2 linked regions of the Homo sapiens genome follow. The protein of the gene in region 1 purifies or fractionates together with the protein of each later gene. This does not show direct contact. Each region holds a gene or a part of one and is shown in the gene's direction. Other genes may lie near its edges.

Evidence for each region.
Region 2: the proteins of EXOC3L1 (region 1) and EXOC2 purify together in Homo sapiens (affinity purification with mass spectrometry; one large-scale study listed by BioGRID and IntAct). This does not show direct contact.

The regions. Positions count from the first base shown.
Region 1 is NC_000016.10:67,183,879-67,187,287, reverse strand, and holds the end of EXOC3L1 (exocyst complex component 3-like protein), read left to right. Parts: coding exon 1-63; intron 64-149; coding exon 150-267; intron 268-403; coding exon 404-529; intron 530-630; coding exon 631-731; intron 732-940; coding exon 941-1,051; intron 1,052-1,797; coding exon 1,798-1,927; intron 1,928-2,029; coding exon 2,030-2,152; intron 2,153-2,230; coding exon 2,231-2,386; intron 2,387-2,477; coding exon 2,478-2,602; intron 2,603-2,683; coding exon 2,684-2,894; 3' UTR 2,895-2,909; downstream 2,910-3,409. UniProt on the Homo sapiens protein: As part of the exocyst, may play a role in regulated exocytosis of insulin granules.
Region 2 is NC_000006.12:686,494-690,144, reverse strand, and holds part of EXOC2 (exocyst complex component 2), read left to right. Parts: intron 1-932; exon of another isoform or gene 933-1,006; intron 1,007-3,651. UniProt on the Homo sapiens protein: Component of the exocyst complex involved in the docking of exocytic vesicles with fusion sites on the plasma membrane.

The DNA.
Region 1 (3,409 bases):
GCCTGAGCTAGAAGCTGCGGATGCCTTCGCCTTGCTGCACTGGGCACTGCATGTGTACCTGGGGTCAGTGCCTTTGGGGCAGCGGGACATGGGGGATCAGAGGCTGGGGGCTTGGTGGCTTGGTGTGACACCAGGCCACCTATCTCCAGGCAGGAAATGATGGGGAGCCTGGAGTTGGGGCCTGAGGCTGATGTGTCCCAGCTGGAGCCCCTTCTGACCTTGGAGAACATTGAGCAGCTGGAGGCAACATTTGTGGCCAACATCCAGGTGAGTAGTTGAGGCACAGGTCCAGAGAAGTCCTACTTATCTGCTGTGGGCCTTTATCTGCAGAGTGGAATGTCTACCCATCTCCAGCAGGGTCAGATCCCTGCTACATTCCTTTGCCCCTGGCCCCTCCCCCCAGGCAAGTGTGTCTCAGTGGCTGCAGAATGCACTGGATGGGGAGGTAGCTGAGTGGGGCCGGGAGCATGGGCCCAACACAGACCCGTCTGGCTCCTATTACTCACCAATGCCAGCCATTGTGCTGCAGGTAGGTGGGAAGTGGCCAGACAGGCAGGCAGCCTCCATGGGGCAGTGGGGAGGAGAGGAAGGAGGGAGGCTTTGCCGATGGCTGCTCATTTCTGCCTGCAGATCCTGGAAGAGAACATTCGTGTGGCCAGCCTGGTCAGTGAGTCACTGCAACAGCGAGTGCATGGCATGGCACTGTCAGAACTGGGCACATTCTTGAGGAGGTTTGCTGAGGCACTGACCCATTCCTGATCCCTATCCCTGCTCCCCAGGCAGCCCAAAGGGGCTCTGAGTGAATAAGACATGTCACAGGGAAAGGGCTCTTTCAAACAAGGACTTGGGTATCTTGGAGGTGGGACAGGAGTACCAGGGACTGGGGCTGTGGGGATGCCAGCATAGCAGCAAGTCCAGGAGCCACCTCTGCCCATTGCAGCTTCAGTGATGCTCTGATCCGATTCTCCCGAGACCACTTCAGGGGGAAATCAATGGCCCCTCATTACGTGCCCTACCTACTGGCCGCCCTCAACCACAAGTCAGCACTCAGGTACCAGAAGGCCCCCAGGGAACCCCACCTTCACTAACCCCCTATTGAGTACCTATTATGTATGGGCTCAGCCCACACTAGGACACTAGGGACTTTGGACTCACATCGCCCTGGGGTTCCAATTCTAGTTCTGCTAATTACTAGTTGTGTGACCTTGGATGAGTTACCTAATCTCTGTGAATCTCACTTTTCTCATTAGTATTATGGGGGTACTAATGGAATGTTCTGAGAATCACATGAGATAACATGTAAAGTGGCCACCATAGTGCCTGGCACATGGTGTCAATTGTTCATTCGTCCAGCAAATATTTCAAGGCCCTACTCTGTGCCAGTAATGTCTGGGGTTACAGCTGTGTGTATACACGCACACACACACACACTCCCTTCCTCTTGGGTGGTATGTTCTTTTTGGTGGGGGCAAGGAAAACAAGTGATGATTTTTTACTCCCTCCTCACTGGGATACTTCCCTTCCTTTACGAATGAGGAAACAGAAACCGAAAGAATGTTTTCCTCAAGGACGCACCGCGAATTTGAGGCAGGTCTCGCTGGGCTGTGTCCTTTGCAGCTCGCCAAGCGCCCGTCTCCCAGCCCTGGTCCATGCCTGGGACCAGAAGTGCAGAGAGCCGCTGTTCTCGCTCCCTCCCGTCAAACACTTGCCCCACAAGGTGGCGCCGGAGGGTCTGGACCACCGAGGGCCATGCGGGCCTTGGCCTTGGTCCTGAAGCCGTAGTTTTGCTTGGTCCAGCTCCTCAGTGTCTGTCCTGCAGCTGGACGGGGCGCCTTCAGGGGCCTTGGCTCCAGTGGAAGCTGCGCTGGACGAGTTGCAGAGGAGGATCTACCGCTTGGTGTTGGAGGCGCTGCAGGCGGAGCTCCAGGTGAGGCCTCCTTCAGGTCAGGATGGGAGCAGGTGGAGAGGTGGCGGTACAGCTACGTATGGGGGTCTCCGCGGCAATGCCAGATCTGGATCATTTCCCCAGCCCCTGTTCGCGGATCTGCCCTCGCGCCAATGGCTGTCGAGCCCTGAGCTCCTGCAAAGTGTGTGTGAACGGACGGGGCGCTTCTGCCGGGACTTCTGGCGCGTGCGGAACCCCACGGTTCAGGTGGGTTGGGGGAAAAGATTGGGGAAGGGGCGGCGCGGGTGAGAGGCGACCTGCACCCGCCTGATTGCCTCCCCGCAGCTGCTGCTGGCTGAGGCCGAGCGTGCCGTGGTGCTCCAGTACCTGAGCGCGCTGATGCAAGGCCGCCTGGTGTGCCGCGGAGCCGACGAGAGGACCCAGGCGGCCGAGCGCCTGCGGCACGATGCTGCCCAGCTTCAGCAGCTTTTCCTCAGTTTGGTGAGAGCTTCTTGGGCGGGCAGACGGGCGAGAGTCTCAGTGGCTGGGTGGGAGAGAGGGCTGGCGCGAGACCCTACCCCGACGTGCTCAGGGCCTGGAGGAGAACGCGCACTGCGCGCCGGTGCTGCTCGCCCTGAGGGAGCTGCTAAACCTCCGCGACCCCGCGCTGCTGGGCCTGGAGGTGGCTGGCCTGCGGCAACAATTTCCCGACGTGAGGTGCGGACTGGGGGCCAGAAGGGAAGAGAAGCCGGAGGGCGGGGAGGACGGGGCTGACGCGCCTCCTTGGTGCCCCTGCAGCGAGGACCACGTCTCCGCCCTCTTGGGCCTGCGCGGGGACTTGTCCCGGGAGCAGCACCTGGCCGCGCTCAGCTCCCTGCAGGCTGCGCTGCCGCCGTCGCCCCGCGCGAGCCGCCGCGTCCTCTTCAGCCTAGTGCCCGCGCCCGCGCTCGCGCCGGCCTCCTGCCTGCCCTCGGGGTCCTGCGCCCGAGCCCTGCTGCTCGCAGAATAAACCACGGCTGCCGGACGCCTGAGTCTGTGTGTGTTGGGGAAGGTGGGATGGAATAAAAGTGCCCACGAGGGTTGAGGGAATTCTTGCAGAGTGACACGCTTAAAGTATCCTGGCTCCCGTCCTGGTACACGGGCTGCGCCCCGCCTATGCAGGCATCTGCCCTCTGTGCAGACTGCGTTCCCGAGGCCGCGGGCTACGCCCCCACGTCTCCGCGCCCAGGCCGTGAGCAAGAGTCTCCGCCGCCCTGGCCGCCTGGAGCCCCTGAAGCCCAGCAACTCGCTGTGGCCTTGGGAAGGGGGCGGGCCCAGGACCACGAACACCGCCCCCTCAACCCTGCCTGGCTTCGCTCCCAGTGGCCTCGGGGGCGCGCCGCCGCGGAGACTGACGCGAAGCCCCACGCTTTCGTAAGAGCGTGCGCGCGCCCGAGGACGTACGTCATCGGCGACGGCTCCCGCCGGCTGGGCGTCCGGTGGCCGGTGTAGCAGAGCGGGAGCGGCGGGCGGCGAGCAGAGGAG
Region 2 (3,651 bases), on another chromosome or scaffold:
GAATGCAAGTGATGCGCTGGCCTCAGCTTCCCAGTGCTGGGACTATAGGTGTGACCCACTGTGCCTGGCTGATCTCAATTTGAAAATCACAGAGTCAAAAGGTATTTTTGGCTTAGGCGTCAAAGCAACTATACACTGGTCCTTGGTCTAATCTGGTCTGCTTCATAGTACTGGCTGAGTTGCTTAGATGCTTTGGACTGTTTCCTTTTTTGTGTATTCAGAGAATACATGCAGTTAGATTATCTCTGAAATCCTTCCTGCCTTGAAATTTTCCAACTCAGTGAATCCTATAACCACCTAGCACTTGTCTTATAGCACTTGTGTTGTGTTAGGGACAATATTATTAATGGTGTTTACATACACCAGTAAAAGACTAAGCTCATTCTGGATCGGGATTAGTTTTAATTATTTTTGTATCTTCCAGTCTTACTGTATGCCTGACACATATATTAAAAATCAAATAATATTAGCCTGGATTCATAAGGGGTATTTTTGCCCTCTCAATTAAAGAATAGCTAAGAACTAAACTCTGTAGTATTGAGTGTAAGTCCAGCAGAAGCTCAGAGGTAGGAAGGATCCGTTGGGGCTAGAGTAATTGGGAAGCTTTGATGATAAGAGCTTGATGAAGGAAGGCGTGTGAACACCTGGGCTGCATACCAGGAGCAAAGGCCCAGGGGCTGGTAAGTGAGTGCATTTTGGATTATGGGTGGAGTGCCTTGACTGACAGGCAGAAGAGTTTGGAACTGATTTGTTAGACAGTTCTTTTTTGTTGTTTGTTTTTCCTGGAAAGTTTTATTAGGCCAGCTCAAAAGCTTCCTGAACATCCTTTACCTTAATTCCCTTGGTAGCATTTCAGATTAAAAATACATCATCCAGTTTGCTTTATTTTTGTTTTTGGGTTTATCAGTTTTTCTATGTAATATTTTCCACAGTAAATCTTGGTGCCAATAATGGAACGAACACTGGACACAGGACTGGGGAAGACTGGATTTCAGCTTAGGAGAAGGTGAGCTGCTCAGGGTGGATCCAGAGAGCTTCAAGACTAGTGCCCGGCACATCTTAAGCACTCAGTGACAAGTGCAGCGTTGAAGGCTTTTTTCCCTTTACTGCTTGCTAACAGTGCCACTTTGCACAAGGCTGCCCCTTCGTTTCATTTGTAAGCATGGATGAATTTTTAAAGGCCTTTTCTCATTTTAAAGGTTTGTGATTTTGGAGGGCATATGATTTAACTTTCATTGTATTATAATTTTAGCAAAAGACAAAACGAGACAAAAGGCCATGTTTGGCTTTAGTTTAATTTTAATGAAAACCCCATGTGAATGATAATGATGTATGTCTCAGCAGGAATCAGAAGTCATGCCAGATAGCTCAAATGAAGAAAGGTGCAGAGGGGATTAGGGAATATACAAGGAGTGGTGAGGAGCAAAGGGAAGCTAACAGTAACCAGAAAGGACAGAAGGAGAAAGTAGGGCTGTCTGGAGGAGGATCCGACTGTTGCCAGAGAAGTAGTGCTGGGGGCTGGAAGAGTAACACCGAACTGCCTCAGTGTTGGAACTGGTCCACTTCTGAAATCCAAAGTGCAGGCCTCCCACTGTTTGCTTATAGTCCCTCAACTTTCTCAGTCTCACTCACCCCCACTGCATCTATCAGGCGCTTCTGTGATCTTCAGTCACTGTCATGCCAGTGTGCTCAGTTGTATCGTTGTTGTTCTGTAGCATCTGCCTGGCAGCTTCTCAGCCTTGGGCAGTCTCAACTCTCTGCCTCCTGTAATGCTTGACCTGAGTTGCTGGGGCCAGCTGGGGAAAATCACAGTATCCAGATCTGTGCCCCTATAAATCCATGGTCACCAGCTCAGCTGGGCCATCAAGGAATCTTCCAGAATTTTCCTCATCAGTACCCGCTTCTTATCTCTGCAGAATGTACTTTTCAGCATTTTCACGCTTTTCGAACCTTTCATCCTTTCACATCATTTACACACACTCTTAGCAAGCGGTCTTGCCACCTACATCATAAATGAAAGAGATGTAAGTGGAGAATCGCAGGGGCTTCCTGCCAAAAACTGTTCCTCCTCCCCAGTCACAGTGGAAGAGGTTGTATTTATGCTAAGACCAATCTCCTACCTGGGCTGTGGATCCCATCTACCCCGCCTTTGTGAGGACTTCACTCAGGTGTTCATGTCTTACTAAAGCCTTCCTTCTGTTGGCCTTTATACATGCTTAGAGACAGACAAGAATAAAGTAAAACAGAAAAAACTAGAATCCTCCCTTGATTTCACATTGCCCTTTTAAAATTCCTCTCTTTTTCACTTTCCTGCCACATTTCTTAAAATAGTTGTTTGTAGCCAACTTCTCACCCATCCCAGTGCTGTCTGGTTTCAGCTACGATCACTCTCCTGAAGGCCAAAGTCATTCTTGAGCTTCTGGTCACAAAATCTTGTTCCTGTCATTTCTTCAGGGTAATGCCTGGGACATAGCAAGTGTATAATAAACATTTATTTGACTGAATAAATCCAAGGATGTTTCCTTTTCACAGCCCTAGTTTTTCTGTTTTTCTGGGGTATAGGAGTCCAATACTGTCATCTTTTGAGGATCTGGGTGACTAGTCATTGTATCGCAAATCATCTTGACGGACTAGGTAAAGATACAAATAAATATTATTTGAGGATAAGTTCAGTGGCTCAGTGCCTGTAATCCCAGCACTTTGAGAGGCCGAGGTGGAAGGATAGCTTGAGCCCAGGAGTTTGAGACCAGCCTGGGCAACATAATGAGGCCCCTTTTCTACAAAAATTAGAAAAAAGTTAGCCGAGTGTGGTGGTACATGTCTGTGGTCCCAGTTACTCAGGAGGCTGAAGTGGGAGGATCACTTGAGCCTGGATCACCTGAGGCTGCAGTGAGCTATGATTGCACCACTGCACTCCAGCAGCCTGGGTGACTGAGTGAGACCCTGTCTCAAAAAAAAAAAAAAAAAAAAAAAGAATATTATTTGATAATGACTTCTTCAATCTTGTTCAGGTGATCTGTCTTTCTGGGAAAATAAAACCCTGACATCTTTTTTTCTGAAAAACTATACTTCCTAAAATACTAAGACTTACTGTTTTTATCTATGCATATAGATCTAATAAGAGTAGTAGGGCATTGGGTACTACTGGCAATAGATTTGTGAATAAATAATGCTGTGCTCTTGTATGAAACTCTTTTGTTTTCCTATTAAGTAGTGTATCTTCTTTGAAGTTTTTGTCTTCATTTATTTGTTGGGGGTGGATGGAGGGGGATGAATTTGCACTGGCCTGGTTCATTTTTGACATGTCATCAATGTCCAGTGGCATCGGTTGGAAGTCCAGTCACCTTTAGACCTGCAGCCTTTCCCTGTGCAACATAGTGACAGTCCTTGTCCTCTAGGAGGAGACATGGCATGCTAAGGCAGAGGGCTTTATGGTTCCTGGGGGAATAAAGCAGACCTCTAAGTAACTTTTCCAATTAAGATAGAATCCAGTGCTTGTTTTATGAGAACAGCTGAGTAATCCGGTATATATATAACAGATCTCTTTTATGGGGGCTCTGAGAGCTAAGTTGTCAGGCATTCCCTATATACTTGTCTGGCTTCCAGTATTCCTTCCTAGTCATCTCATGCACATTCTCGTCCCCTTAATCT